Homo sapiens: one gene and its partner. The protein of the gene in region 1 interacts with the protein of each later gene in a pairwise test. Each region holds a gene or a part of one and is shown in the gene's direction. Other genes may lie near its edges. The genes, in order: HHLA2 and SLC41A2.

Region 1 (8,334 bases):
ATCTGCAGCGGTTAGAAGACCAAGACCGAAGCCCTAGGGCTGGTTCTTCTGGCTGTATTACATTAAGCAATCATTCTTACTTTTGAGCATTAGTACCTCATTGATAAAATAGAAGTAATTCTTACCTTGCTATGTATTTATGAGTTGAGTGAAAACATTCATGAAGTGGAAAGAAGCAAATCTATTCTTGAATATTAATGTATTTGTCAATGGCTCATCCTTCAAACAGGATTTTCTACCAGCATTGCTCTTTAAAAGATCAAAGGAGAAAGAATACTTGTCTTTCAGCAGATCACAACTTCCAATCTTACAATTAAACAAAATATTAATGAGTATTATTGCTTCTTTTTAGTTTCTTTACATAGTATTAGCCCATCAATCTTTATCCAACACCTCTATCACAACATGGTCAGTTTTTAGCGCTCGTTCCTCTCATTTATTTGAACAGATCCAAACTCTGATCAATCTCTATATCCAAAACCTGTTTAATAAAAAGTAATTTGCTATCTCCATATCCAAGTCCAAGAAAATTTGTTTTCCTTTTTTTTTTTTTTTTTTGAGATGGAGTCTCCCTCTGTCGCCCAGGCTGGAGTACAGTGGCATGATCTCAGCTCAATGCAACCTCCACCTCCCAGTTTCAAGTGATTCTCCTGTCTCAGCCTCCTGAGTAGCTGGGATTACAGGCACATGCCACCACATGTGGCTAATTTTTGTATTTTTTTAGTAGAGACAGGGTTTCACCATGTTGGTCAGGCTGGTCTCGAACTTCTGACCTCGTGATCCACCCATATCGGCCTCCCAAAGTGCTAGGATTACAGGCGTGAGCCACCGTGCCCAGCCTGTTTTTCATTTTATTAGTAACAAAGCAAAAATTTTCTGTCAGTCTCCCTTATAGGGGGAAAATGGAGGTTATCTTTTTTTTTCAGTCTTCTCTTTCCTAGCATCTCATATTCTCAAAATGCTCACCAAAAATATACTGAAATTGTGGGTGATTCACCACATTTACATGAGTCCAGTGTTAAAGGCATGAGTACCCAATGTTCATTCTCCATCAGTCAGGCAGCAATGGAAACATGGGAAAGGGTTGCAAATGTTAATATTATAAATATTGCCTTTGGAAAATCCTAATTTCTCATGTTCATTTAGAATTGAGTGTCTTGAAGCATGAACAGTTCTTTAGGCTCAGTACTGTTTGGTCTCATTGAAAAGCTATTACGTGCCAAGTTTTGTTGCTCACAGACTGTGAACTTAAGAACATGGTCTCTACTGATTTCTGGATCCACAGCATCTAGTACAAATATAAAAATTAAACTAGGAACATAGCTTACAAAGGGAGTGATTAATTCTATTCTCTGTGGTTGGACATGAATGGGGTTGTCACAGAATATGTGCTTAAGAAAGTTGCATAAGGGTAGAATTTTAGAAGAGTAGTAGGACATTCCAGGAGAAGAAGAATATTCCAGGTAAAAAGCACAGAAAAGTAAAATTGCCTGGATTTGTGGAATCAATGGATCAAGAGATGAACCTGGAGAGGGAGGCCAAAAACAGATGAAAGACCTTTTACACGTTGCTAAGGAGCTTGTTGAGTCTTGGAGGTAGGATAGATCAGAAGAGGGATTTGAACCATCAGAGAGGCCCTGGATTTGCCTTTTGGAGGGCTTACTTTGGCATCACTCTCCTGCAGGTAGACTGGAAGCCAGGTGAGTCTAGAGCCAGGGGGAACAGTCCATGACAGTCCATAGAGGTCAGCCTACAACACTACAGAACGGGAAGGACAAGATGGAGCTGGGTCTGGAGGGGCAAGCCAAGAAAATTCAGCAGTCTCTCTTTAAAAGAGCTCAGTCCAGTGGGGGTTGCCTGCACACAGCTGGAAATATTCTTATATGAAGAAAAAGAGATTTTGTCTAGAAAAAGAGATTAAGAAGTAGTGAGGCCATAAAAGTTAGAGACCACTAGGGAGTAGGTAGGGTACCAAAAGGGGTGTTCTGGGGACCACCAGCATTAGAGGGGCCAAGAGAAGGAGAACATTGAGTTTAATAGGCTAGTAACTGGTAGCAACATTCCTGAGTGCTTACTGTCAGGTTCTAAGAGTTAAAACAAGTATATCACCCCTCTAGCTGGCCCTGGCTTAGCCCTCCTTGAAGGTCTAAACTAACCTTGGTGGGAAACTTTAAAATAGTGGTAGTAAAACTTGTCTTTTAAGAAACCACAGTACAAATATAATTACTTTCCAAAAAGTTATTTCCAAATATATCAGTATTAGTGCCTTTGTTCTCTGCTTTCTAAGTGTAACTTAGAGAATTCTTTTGAAATGTTTATCTTCATTGATGTTTTCTTTTCTATTGTGTTGTTAGATGGCCTTCATAAAATGCAAAGTGAACACGTTTCACTCTCATGTCAACCTGTAAATGATTATTTTTCACCAAACCAAGACTTCAAAGTTACTTGGTCCAGAATGAAAAGTGGGACTTTCTCTGTCCTGGCTTACTATCTGAGCTCCTCACAAAATACAATTATCAATGAATCCCGATTCTCATGGAACAAAGAGCTGATAAACCAGAGTGACTTCTCTATGAATTTGATGGATCTTAATCTTTCAGACAGTGGGGAATATTTATGCAATATTTCTTCGGATGAATATACTTTACTTACCATCCACACAGTGCATGTAGGTAAGTTGCAAGTAGGTTTGGATAATGGGTTTTGGCTGTAGCATTAGAGGTTTGTGAATATCAAAGAGAAAATTAGGTTGACTTTTCAAGAATACATTGATACCCTCTCAAAATATAATCCACAGGGATATTTCTGGTCAGGATGTCGATTACCCTCCCTCCTTCAACCACACAAAAGTCCTGTTTTGAAAAAAAAAATTACTCCCACAGATTTCCTTTCAGGATTTTGGGGCTTCAGAAATGAGGAGGAAACACATTTTGATGACTCCATGCGCTGAGCATCTTCCATTTCTGCTCACTGCTGTGCCTAATATATACCTTAGGCCTAGGGTTTGGGGATTCAAGGCTAGAGACACATTAGGAAGTTACAATCGGGGTCCTGAAGAATGCTGGGAAATCATGACAGTGTCTATGAACTTGGAAATAGTCACCACACAATATTTGAAGCACCAAGTATATATTCCTAGTTCAGTTCATTTTTACCTCTGTTGATAGTTCACTGCCAAAAACCATTATCTAAAATATTTCTAGTCAACTAACCATCAAGTCATGGAATATATACTCATGAAGCTGACCTTCTAGGTGAGCTGGATGGTCCCACCCTTAAACTATCAACTTCACATCATGGCAGACCATGGCAGCTCTTTCTGTCCTTCAATAAAGGTATTTGAACCAGTGGAACTTATGTTTTAGAAATATTTCTATCATTTCAATTGTGAAAATTAGGAGGAATAACATTTGAAGTTTTGGTGATTCTACGTAGTGAGATTTGGAGACAAGAGCACAGAGTTGTCCTTTAGGTTATGTGATCTTCAAATACTTGGAAGCTTCTGGACATTGAGTAATAACACTCCCTTTGTAGAGCTGCCACTTTGAGAGTAGAGAATGAAAAACTGGGGCTGCATTTGAAGCTCCTATTTTTCTCCAAAAATAAAAGTGTCAGTTTTATGTAAAATACAGTTAAGCCTGCAATCTATTTTTAAAAATGTTGCCTCATGTTGGATTAATTTTGGAGTGTAAAAAAAAAAATAGTCAAGAAGAAATGTCCTAAAGACTACATATGGCCCGTCTTCCCACCCAGAGATCTAATTTTCAGTTCACACAAAGTGAAACATCAGGACCATTCCATCTCTGACAAAAGAGTATTTTCAGAACCTCTCATTCTCAAATAAATGTTGGCCAGGTGGGGCTGGGGGAGGGTGTGCTCACCCTTCCCCACGAGGAAGAGGACTTGGCAGGAGCCACCCCAGCAGGCCAGGGAACAGGGCAAACAGTCTTGGTACCTTAAATATCATCCTTTCAAGGATGACTTTTCCATTTGTTGCCTTTCCCAGGAGGTGCTACAACAAGATGGGGGGTACTTATGATTCCTCGAATCTAGATCTGCTCAATTAAGGTTGCACCAAGCTGAATGGAATTAAATAATCCTTGCTAAGTTCTGCTGCTGAATCAATATGTGACCTTGGGCAAATATCCTTACAGATGGGGGAACCTGAGGGTCACGAGTACAGTGAGAAGTAGCTATACCTTGTAGGATTTCCTTTAGGAGGAAGAAAAATGCATATGAAAACCCTGTAGAAAGTCAACCTAACATTCCTACTTAATCTCTCCTTTATATAGGTACAGTAGTCCCCCCTTTCCTTGGGGGATATGTTCCAAGACCCCCAGTGGATGCCTGAAACTATGGACAGTACTAAACCCTATATATGCATTCCCACATGGTACGAGGATTAATCTGTCCTTCCATGTTTATGCCTTGGTGCCTCATTCACACTTCTATGAATACAGGTTCTATTGGGCATCTTCTTCCAGCAGAGCTTGCTTTCATTGCAATTAAAGATTTGCTTTAGATGGAAATGTGGCTGTAGCTTCTTCATCAGCAGACACAGCCTCTCCAGTAATTTTTATATTTTTCAGTCCAAGCTGATTTCTAAATCTGTGTAGCCATCCTCTATCCTCTACTTGCAATAAATGGCCTGTTTCAAGGGATCTCTTGCTGAAGTCTTCATATAAGCCCAAAGCTTTCCAGTGCAACATATCATCAACCAGAACACATTTCTGTTATGTCTTCCACCCTCAAATTTAATGCCATTTCCATCTTAACTCAGCATATACAACACACTGTGGCCATAACTGTTGTAGTTTGAGATGTGACTGCAAAACTAACACAAATTTTCTTCTTTCTTTCTTCACAATTTTACAGATAGAAGATTCATTTTCACCATAGATCTCAGCAACCTCAATATATGATTTTTCATAAGTCAAGGGCTTTAATTGTTTTAGTTCAAAGAAGCACTTTATGGCTTCTTTTTGGTATATCCAAATTGCCAGCATCACTACTCTTGTGCTTTGGGACCATTCTTAAAGAAAATAAGGGTTACTTGAACACAAGCATTGTTATACCATGACAGTCAGTCTGATAACTGAGATGGCTAGTAAATGATTCATGGGGGTAGTGTGTACAACGTGGATATGCCGGACAAAGGGCGCAGTCACGTCCCAGGTGGGATGCAGTGGCGTGACACGATATTTCTTCATGCTACTCAGAATGGCACACAATTTAAAACTTAAGAATTATTTATTCCTGGAATTTTCCATTTGGTTATGTTTGGACTACAGTTGACCATGGGTAACTAAAACCTCAGAAAGTTAAACCAGGGATAAAGCGGACTCCTGCGTGGAATTTCAGAATGACACAAATAGGTGGAGAGATTAATATTTTATTAGTTGTAAAACACTATAGTATGTTCATAGAAAATTACATTTGTTATGTAAAAAGAGGTATTCATTCTAAAGGATAGCCACAAACATTTTCCCCCTGAATTGACCTTTGTGCTCTAATGCTTGCTGCCCTCGTTTTAGCAGAACATAGACCATAAGGTTAGCAGGGTTCTGACTTTGGTAACCCAGGGTCTCTGGAGTCCCCATTTCCATTAATACTAATTTCAACAATTCTAGTCCTGACCAAGATGCTGGAGAAAGTTTAGGCTCCTCCAGTTATTTCTGAGGAGCTCCAAACACTATCAGCAGGTCCTCCTTTTCTGCAGTTTGTTACACAAAGTCAACCACTGTCTGAAATTTTTAAAAGGAAAATTCCAGAAATAATGTTTTAAATTGTGTGCCATTCTGAGTAGCATGATGAAATTGCATGTCATCCCGCTCCATCCTGCCTTGAAGGTGAATCCTCCCTTTGTCCAGCATATCACACCGTGGATGCTACCCGCCTGTTAGCCCTCCTGGTAATCAGATCTACTGTCATGATATCGCAGTGCTTGTGATCAAGTAACCCTTATTTTATTTAAGAATGGCCTCAAAGCACAAGAATAGTGATGCTGGCAGTTCAGATACACCAAAAAGAAGCCGTGAAGTGCTTCCTTTAAGGGAAAGCTCTCAAGAGGAAAAAAGAGCCTATGTCGAGGTTGCTAAGATCTACAGTAAGAAAGAATCTTCTACCTATAAAACTGTGAAGATGGAAAAAGAAATTAGTGTATAGTATGCATAGCGTTCAGTACTAAGGTTTCAGGCATCCACTTGGGGGACTTGGAATGTATCCCCCAGGGATAAGGCGGGGGACTACTGTGCCTATTATCTCTGTGGTCACCTGCCACCTCTAACTCAAGACCAGGGCTTCTACTCATCTCCTTTTATCACCTCTGAACTTACCACTGTTCCCTTAGGACCCTGTCTTCTCTAGGCCAATGGCAGACTGCACTCTTACTTCATCCTCCAAGGTGAACACTGGGCTGAGGCTAATTTATGGACATAATTATTCCTTTATAAAAATGTGTTGTTTCTTATTACAGTATAAAGCAATAGAAACTGAAAATGCATAATAGATGTATTACCTCTCCAGTTTTCAGACTTTTCTCCCAGCTCCCCCACCTCCACCAATCTCCAATAATATTATGGTATCTGTAGGTTTCCCACAATAGATACACTGAGACTAGGAGATATTTATGCTCAAGACAAACTCTCCTGTCCAGTCTGGGCTCTTGGCTTTATCCTAAAGGACGTTTTTATTATGCAAAGTGTTTTCATATGAATTCAGCCTCCTACCTGTAATGCAGAAATAACTAGTTTTTAAAATAGTAAACATACTCCACCCTTACCCACCCACACATTTCTTATCTGGTAATTTTTCTTCCAGTTCACAGACTTTGTTTCTCCTTTTTTTTTTTAGAACCGAGCCAAGAAACAGCTTCCCATAACAAAGGCTTATGGATTTTGGTGCCCTCTGCGATTTTGGCAGCTTTTCTGCTGATTTGGAGCGTAAAATGTTGCAGAGGTAATAGAAGAATTTGGGCTCTGCCCCACGTGTTCCACATCACGTATATTAAAGATAACATGGAAATACATGCCCAAACAGCTACTGGGCATGTAATTGATCTGAATTTTCTGGAATGTCATTCACAAAATTCACCCAAAATCTTTTAAAATGCTCCTACATTTCCACCTAACCATTCTACTTCTAGGAATTTATCTCACATTAAATGAGCAGAGGTACACCAAACTATATACAAGCATATTCACTGCAGCACACTGCTATTGCCTTTAGGTTTCCTACTATTTTCAATAAATAATTGGGAAATTAATTAAAGATCATACTTTACTTTTTAAAATTTTAATCTAGTATTAAAATGATAACCAGGATGACTTAATCATCCTGCATTGAAAAGTAACTGGAAAGAAAAAAGCCAAAGCTTTAAGATGTTGCCTTTGGAGTGATAGGACCATGAGTTCTTCCTTACCCTCACACCTCAGAAGGAAGCCAGATACCTCCTTAAGCCCCTGGGCTCTGCCTGTTCTCCCTTGCTCTGAGTTTAGTCAAGGTTGGTGCTCTGATTGAAACTGCATTGTTCTTTTCTTATGGGTCATTTCATTTTAATTGTTGTTCAATTAATCTTTTTCTAAATTTTAGGCAAAAAATCTTACCAGTAATTTAAAATATCTTAAGATGCCATGATCATGGGAAGTACTTTTAGGGAATACTTTCCTAAAGTACTTTGCTTTTAGTACCAGAATTTTGAGCTAGAGAGCATCTGGGCAAAACTTAGATCTAGTTGATCTCCACATTTTACAGATCAGGAAACAGGAATCCAGGAAGTTAGCTTAAGTGCCAAGTAGGCATGTGAAACAGATTTAGGTGGATCATTTAATATCACCAAGCCAGCTAATGGTAGAGGCAGGTTGAGGCCCCCAGAAGCCCTCCCTTATTCCATTATCCCCCTGAGAAGGCTCTGGGTGTCCTGGGAACTTGAGATAGATCCTATGTCTCTTTTATCTGTCCTTCTGGTTGATATTTGGCTATTGCCCCTGCTGAAGTTAGGAGATTAGGGTTATAGCAGAAACTATTATTGAAGATACAGTTTTAGGGGCAATGGAGAGCAAGCATTTCACCAATTCTAGCCCTGTGATCATTCGTACTAATAAGCAGGATAGTTCCTGTCCCTTGGCTGGCCAGATGGAGTAAGACCACAGGCAGTCTAGCCTGTCCACGAAGATCAACCGTTGACCTAATATACTGATATTTGTGATTGGATTAGGTTCAAATTATGGGAGGTGGTGCTACATCCTACTCAAGAATGATAGTTTAGTTTCTTTAGTGGAAGTCTGCATAAGTCAGTTCTCAACTGAAAACACATGGCACACTCAAAACTGGATA
Region 2 (8,334 bases), on another chromosome or scaffold:
CATCTGTTGATGGTCACTTAGTTTGCTTCCAAATCTTGGCCATTGTGAATAGTGCTGCAACAAACATAGAAGTGCAGATATCTCTTCAACATACTGATTTCCTTTATTTGGGATTATATACTCAGCAGTAGGATTTTTGGATCATATGGTAGCTGTATTTTTAGTTTTTTGAGGAACTTCCGAACTGTTCCCCATAGTGCTTGTACTAATTTACATTCCCACCAACAGTGTACGAGGGTTCCCTTTTCTCCACATCCTCACCAGCATTTGTTATTGCCTGTCCTTTGGATAAAAGCCATTTTAACTGGGGTGAGATGATATCTCATTGTAGTTTTGATTTGCATTTCTCTGATGATCAGTGATGTTGAGCACCTTTTCATATGACTGACTACCATTTGTATGTCTTCTTTTGAGAAATGCCTATTCAGATCTTTTGCCTGTTTTAAAATCAGATTATTGGATTTTTTTTCCTATAGATTTGTTTAAGCTCCTTATATATTCTGGTTATGAATCCTTTGCCAGATGGGTAGTTTGCAAATATTTTCTCCCATTCTGTGGGTTGTCTCTTTACTTTGTTGATTGTTTCCTTTGCTGTGCAGAAAGTTTTAAACTTGATATTATCCCATTTGTTCATTTTTGTTTTGGTTGCCTGTGCTTGTGGGATATTACTCAATAAATTTTTGCCCATACCAATGTCCTGGAGAGTGCCCCTAATGTTTTTGTGTAGTAGTTTTATAGTTTGAGGTCTTAGATTCAAGTCTTTAATCCATTTTGATTTGATTTTTGTAGATGGTGAGAGATAGGGGTCTCATTTCTTCTGCATGTAGATGTCCAATTTTCTTAGCACCACTTGTTAAAAAGACTGTCTTTTCCTCAGTGTATATTCTTGGCACTTTTGGCAAAAATGAGTTCACTGTAGATATATGGATTTGTTTCTGGTTTCTCTATTCTCTTCCATTGGTTTGTGTCTGTTTTTATGCCAGTACTGTCTTTTGGTTACTATAGCTCTGTAGCATAATTTGAAGTCAGGTAATGTGATTCCTCCAGTTTTGTTCTTTTTGCTTAGGATAGTTTTGACTATTCTGAGTCTTTTTGTGATCCCACATAAATGTTAAGATTTTTTTTTTCTATTTCTGTGAAGAATGTCATTGGCATTTTGATAGGGATTACATTGAATCTGTAGATTGCTTTGGGTTATATGGACATTTTAACAATATTGATTATTCTAATCCATGAACATAGAATATCTTTACACTTTTTGGTGTCCTCTTCAATTTCTTGCATCAATATTTTATTTTATTTTATTTTATTTTATTTTATTTTTTTTTTGAGATGAGGTCTTGTTCTGTTGCCCAGGCTACCAGGCTAGAGTGCAATGGCGTGATCTCGGCTCACTACAGCCTCCGCCTCCTGAGTTCAAGCAATTCTCCCACCTCAGCTGGGATTACTGGGGTGTGCCACCATGCCCAGCTAATTTTTGCATTTTTAGTAGAGATGGGGTTTCACCATGTTAGCCAGGCTGGTCTCAAGCTCCTGACCTCAGGTGATCCACCTGCCTCAGCCTCCCGAAGTACTGGGATTACAGGTGTGAGCCACTGCTCCCGGCCTGTTTTATAGTTTTTATTATAGAGATCTTTCATGTCTTTGGTTATTTCTAGGTCTATCTTATTTTACTTGTAGCTATTGTAAATGGGATTACTTTCTTGATTTCTTTTTCAGATTATTCACTGTTGGCATATAGAAATGCTACTGCTTCTTGTGTGTTGATTTTGTATCCTACAATTTTACTGAATTTATCAGTTCTGATAGTTTTTTGGTGGAGTCTTTAGGTTTTTCCAAATATAAGATTATGTCATCTGCAAATAAGGATAATTTGACTTCTTTCTTTCCAATTTAGATGCCCTTCATTTCTTTCTCTTATCTGATTGCTTTAGCTAGGACTTCTAGTAGTATGTTAAAAAAACAGTGGTGAAAGTCTCTTTCCTCTTTTAAATATCATTATTGTATTAGAGATGTCTAAGATCTTTTTCAGCTTGAAATTGTAGAAATCTATGCAGGGGTAATAATCAAAACATTTAACAACCAGTAGAGTTGTTAAATATATATATAAATAATATATAAAAATAATATAAATAATATATAAAATTTGAAAATATATTCCATTTATTTTTAAATACCCTGAACTCTTACAAAGTAATATGAGTTGTAGTATAAATTATTTGTCAAATTATCCTAATAATTTCCATCTCAGCTTTTCATTTTTCCTCCCATTCTTTGTCTTCACTTTTCCTTTATCATCCTCTCTCCCTGCAACTGTCAGTCAAGATAGGAGTCAGACATGGCTAGGGATTCACTGATTCTAGTTGCCATAGCCCAAAGCCTGTGTCTTTATGTGCCTTACTCCACCAAGAAAGTGTGAAGAACAGGGAACCCCAACCAGGCCCCTCAGGACACACCTGGTACCAGCCAGTGAGGCAGCAATTGGTTGAAGCCCAGTCACAAGTAGACAAAAGTGAGAAGAAAAGAAGATGGAGCGGTGGGGGTAATGGTTGGGGGAGAGGGTTTTTTCTTCCTGAGGCTTCTTCTGCTAACACTTGTGAAAGAGTAGATGATGAGTGTGGGAGGGGAGTAGGATGGGCTGGCACAAGCCTCCTCTGCCTGGAGACTGGCCATGGAGGGTAGAAAGAGAGAAGGGTAGAAAGCACAGACGAGGCCCACACTCCCACTTGCTCAGGGTTGTGCTCTTCTCACTGTTAAATGGAGCCCCAGGCAGATCGCCTGTCACAGATTTCTTCACGATTGTACAGAATGGTCTTCTGGACCAAATACATACATAAGTAGTCAGATAAAGCAAAGTCTCCAGTCCCACATGAGGAACTGTTGCCTCACCAGGAGGGACGTGTCCTGTACCAAACATCTCTTCAGGCCTATGGCCCCTGTTAACCTTCACATCTACTACTTAAACCCAGACTTTGCTTTCTCTTGGGTACAATTAGTCATTTTTCAGTTAGTCATTATTTTGCATATTTCCAGAATAGGACTTCCTCATCTCAGCTGTGTGCTTTTATTTTCTCAGAAATTGACAGATTTATATATACATATATACACACCATGATGTCTGCAGTAGGTTCTCTAGCTCTGTGTTCCAATGTCAAGCCAGACAGGACTTGGAATCATAGTGCTAGAATTTATATTATAAATTAATTTTACTGCTTTAAAGTGTAATTACATCATTTACTAACCAGAATGAAAATCCTGAAATATTTTAACTGCTACACTCATCATGGTGCTTATTGGTTTGAATCTCAGCTCTGTATCTGTGGATGACATCCACAGAAGCTGTAATATTAATACAAGATCATGGGGCTGGAGTCCAGGATATATGGTCTCTTTAGTCCTGGCTCTTCTGTTGATTTACTATATGACTACTTCAGGAATTTTTTACTTGGAGCCCTCGATTCCAGCACGTGGATTGGCTTCAGAGAGTCCATGAACATCAAGAAATTCTACTCAAAATATTGAGTGCCTCTGTGTTTGCCTAGAGAAAGAGAACTCTATTCTATAGAGTTTTTACCAGATTGTCAAAGGAGTCCATGACACAAACTCAGCTAAGAGTGAGTGCAATAGATGATTCTTGTAGGGTTTCTTTTAGTTCTGACATCCTATTAATCTGAGGCTGAGTTAGCGGTGAGTGTTATTTCTTAGTGGCAGGTTTTTTTTATTCTTGCTTTGTGTCAGCACTGTGGAAAGCAGTTTATATATTTATATAATTAATTTAAATCACAAAGTTTGAGGTTATTGTGGTCTTACTGATTAGGAACTGAAATTTTCATAGCACTAATCACAATTGTGCTTATTTGTGAGGTTATTTTCAAATGTTTGTCTCTCCCACTGACCAAGAGCTCTGTGAGGGCAGGGAATAATCTACGTTGACCACTGCTGTAGCCCAACACAAAACATAGCACATTATACATAGTAGAATCTAAATAAATACTCCTTGAATGAATGAGTTTAAATAATTTGCTACAAGATTAAGTGCTAGAACCAGGAGTCAAACTCCTATCTTTCTATTATAAAATCCAATCTCTTGCCAGCACTACCTCTAGAGTCAGACTTCAGATGTGTGGATTGGGTACTTCTCAGTCTGAAGGTGGCATTTTCTTAGGTGATCTATTAGTTATACCATCAGCATCACTTGGGGTGCTTGTTAAAAACAGATTCCTGGACTCCGTTCCATACTTGTCACCAGATCATCAGAGCAGTTTGAGAACCCACCATCTTAGGGAATATTAAAACCAAAATATAGTAACTACTCTAAAAGGTAATGTAGCTCAATTATTACATGCAATACTTTTTTTGACTTTTTGTAGTAATATTTACATAATCAAAATGTTTAAATGTGTTTTTAAAGTGAATAATTCAGTTGGATTTATGAAAAAAATTTTAGGTTCAGGCAACAGTAGTGGGTTTTCTAGCAGCTGTGGCAGCAATTATATTGGGCTGGATTCCAGAAGGAAAATATTACCTTGATCATTCCATACTTCTGTGCTCTAGCAGTGTGGCAACTGCCTTCATTGCATCTCTTCTGCAGGGTAAGTGAATTTATAAATGTCTACTCTATAGCCTTTTACATTTAAATGGTTTATTTCTTAAGATGACTATTTTTATTTAAATGATACCTGTTATGAAAACAACAGAAAAAACATATCTACAAACTTAAAAAATGCCTTAGTTATTCCAGATATATTTACATTTCATTATTTATAAAACTTAGTGTAGAACAGGCTTTTCTGAGGTTGTCTCCTGGCCTTGGATACTCCGTTATAGTTCCTCAAAAAGATCAGGAAAATCGCCTAGACATTCATTTGTTTCTGTAAGTTAAATAAATTGGGAAACTCCTTTCTGGACATCATGCAGGGGATTTACTAGCTTGTCACTTGAGTAACAAGTGTTCCAGGAATTCTGGGTTTCAAAAGTCATCCTCTGTTGAAATTTTTTTGTTTCAGATTTCAAGAAAAATTTCTTCCCTGTTTCTGTGGCAATACAAATATAACCTTATACTTAAGATAGCATATTGTTGGCTATAGAATTTAAAGAGCCAGAAGGTTTTAAAAATTAACTACTTTAGAACTTTTATTTGGGTTATTTTTCTTTATATTTATTCGTATGAACTTTACACTAGAGAATTAGCTTATTGTGGAATCACAATCATAAAGACTTTGTTCTTTTTATTTTATAATTGCCATTTTCTTGCCCTTATATCACCAGCAAAGTTTAAAGTGGATTATTGTCATGTTAGGTGATCATACAATGCAGCTAACTTTTTTGGCTAGGTTCTGGGAATTTAGGGAATCTTATTAAAATTATAACTCGATTTCCAAAATATTTTCAAGCATTTTGTTTTAGTAGTTTAATTGTATCGGGGTAGTTTCTTGTCTTCATAAAGAATTACTATAGTTGAATGGAGTTAACATTGACCAAAGCAGAGTGAAGTTAAGCTATTGGAAAATTAAATTGTTGGTACAAAAATAATTATGCCATCAGCATGCTATTTTTTTAGGCTCATTTGCTTCTTTTTTCTTTCTGATTTTATTTCATTTAGAAAGTGTCATTTAAAATTTTTCAGTCTAACAAGTATTTGAAAGCTTTTCAAAACTATCCAAAATTCAGAATTTTAAAAAGTATTTGTTTAAAGCTTCTGACTTTGAATAATGTGTGTTCTAATTTTATGATAACTTGACCTTTATAAGCACTTTAGTATATGTAAAGTAGAAACTCTTAGCCATATTTGTAGGTGAGAAAACTTAGGTAAGGTGACTTGTCCAATCTCATCAACTTGTTACCAGCTGAATCAGAACTAAAACACGTTTCCTAACTCTTAGCTCTTTCCACTGGACTATGATACATACAAAATATTTGTTTTCAGTTGAAAAGATATAGATGGTACTATGTGTAGGAGAACTTCCCATATACATCTTCAAATGTGCTGATTTTGGAAAAAGATTCTAAGCGATTACATCTTGCCTGATTATTGCATAATGTATTTTTTTTAAAAAGTTTTCTGCTATAGCTTTTTTTCTTTTTCAATGATATTATGGGAAAGGTAAGTCTAGTAATTTAAAAAGCCTCCAGAATACTAAAATATAAGGCACTGTTTGATGCAAGACAAAAATTCTGCTTATTAAAATTTTGGCTTTAATAGGTAGAGTAAAAAACACTGGGCTAGAGTCACAAGCTATGTGACTTTAGGCAAGAATTTAAGCCCTACTCTACAGGACCTCAGTTTTATTATCTATAAAGTGAGTATGCTGGAACAAAAACATTTAGAGTCATTTTAACTCTAAAAGTGCTGTGAGATTCTGTTACTGTTTTTCTCCATAGCCATATTTAGGCTTTCATATTGATTTGTGGTTAGCACATTTAAAGTTTTCTCTTTACTACATCCTCTTAATGAGTATCTTGGTGTGACAAAATCTACACAATTTAGAGTGGATATAAATGTTAATAGTTTTATCCCATTTGTATAATTTAAGAAAATTAGGATGTAAAAGTACAAGTACACAGTTAAATTTTCATCTTCTATTCTCTCGTAGGTTTATAGACAGAAACTTCAGGTTTAAAGAATATCTTTTACAAAGACTGTTTCTTGTATTCTGGCCTTCAGTGTTTTAAAATTTAATTATGTCCTGCTGCTTAATACTTCAACGTCTTTAAGTAATAAAATGAAATAAGCATTTCTAGCTGCCATATGTAAACAAATCTGGTTTTGTTGGCCTTCTTCCCAGTTGTTGTACATATACATATGACTCACCTTTTTTTTTGATGTTTTCATACTTTATTTGAGGGTTAAAATTAAAACCTTTGGATTCAATACACACAAATACATTATATCTAAGATATACATGTCACTAAATCTGAAATTTTAGCTTTACCATAATTTTAGTAGCTTTCAGGCCTCTAAATACAATGCTGAACTTCTTAAATTTTCTATGATCCCCACTTGGAGTTTGTTGAAAGGCATTTTGCCAAAGCGTTAGAGTAAATGTTTTGTTTGCTTTAGTCAGCTTATCTAAGCAGTCTAACTGGAATTGATATGCTGTTTTTCTATCCTACACATTTTGGTATTTGGGGGATTGATTTTCTTTAAATCATAGCCTAAAAAGTAATGAACATTCTTTCTTCTAGGAATAATAATGGTTGGGGTTATCGTTGGTTCAAAGAAGACTGGTATAAATCCTGATAATGTTGCTACACCCATTGCTGCTAGTTTTGGCGACCTTATAACTCTTGCCATATTGGCTTGGATAAGTCAGGGCTTATACTCCTGTCTTGGTAAGTTGATTTAAAACTAAATATTGTGTGTTGTCTCAAGTCTCTTTAAATAAATATTGTTGCAGCAATGCCATGAATCCATGGTAGCCTTCATTTGCATTAGAACTGCTGTTGAGACTGATTAGGATAACTATCATTTGTTTTATACCTACTATGTGTTATGATTCCCACTTTCTTTTTTCTCGTAGAGTTTAAAACTCTGTAAAATAAGGATTATCATCTCTAATTTTAGATGAGAAAAGCAAGGATCATAGAAGTTATGTATGTTACCCAAGTTTATATAACTACTAGTAAAAAAGTTGAACACAGGCTTATCATATTTTGTGATTTCTGTCCTTTCCTGTAAGTGTACAGCAGCTAGGAGTCAACCTGCAGTGTTCTCTGTATAGAACCATCTCAGAATATAAGCTTATAAGTGGTACTTAAAATTTACCAATGGAATGTTTTTCCCCATCAGAAACCCACACCAATAAGTAGCTTCATGGCAGTTAACAAAAGGGAAAAAAAAATCACCACAAAAATTAGACTGAATGCTGTATAAAGTTGGAGCCATATATGTAATTCCTGATAAATAGTGATAGAGTATTTATGGAATCTAATGAGTTGTTTTAATGCAAATTTGTGTTCTGGAAATGGTAAATACATATGATTTGTGAGTGTTGATGACATGCTAAAAGTTCATTGTGGTTTTATTATTTTTAGATGCCAAATTAAGGAAAACAGAAACTTACAGTAATACAAGAAAAAAACATGAGTATATAAGCCAAGCCAGAGGCAAACATTTATTCACAAATCCTCACATATGTTCATGGATTCTATACAGATTTATGGTGTACTTTAAAATAAATCTAAAGCATGTTTCGTTTTAAGAAGTAAGGGTCTCAGATATATGTTCTTGAAATAAAGAAAGGGCTTTAACCAACCAAAGGCAATAATTTTCTGTGACTTTTGGAGACATCAAGGAAGCTTCACTTAGCATATAAAATTGCCTTAAGTTATTTA

Evidence for each region.
Region 2: the proteins of HHLA2 (region 1) and SLC41A2 interact in binary tests that used the Homo sapiens proteins (3 or more experiments, as listed by UniProt).

The regions. Positions count from the first base shown.
Region 1 is NC_000003.12:108,355,490-108,363,823, forward strand, and holds part of HHLA2 (HERV-H LTR-associating protein 2 isoform a precursor), read left to right. Parts: intron 1-2,354; coding exon 2,355-2,672; intron 2,673-6,852; coding exon 6,853-6,957; intron 6,958-8,334. UniProt on the Homo sapiens protein: Through interaction with TMIGD2, costimulates T-cells in the context of TCR-mediated activation. Enhances T-cell proliferation and cytokine production via an AKT-dependent signaling cascade.
Region 2 is NC_000012.12:104,885,291-104,893,624, reverse strand, and holds part of SLC41A2 (solute carrier family 41 member 2), read left to right. Parts: intron 1-4,447; coding exon 4,448-4,592; intron 4,593-7,185; coding exon 7,186-7,332; intron 7,333-8,334. UniProt on the Homo sapiens protein: Acts as a plasma-membrane magnesium transporter. Can also mediate the transport of other divalent metal cations in an order of Ba(2+) > Ni(2+) > Co(2+) > Fe(2+) > Mn(2+).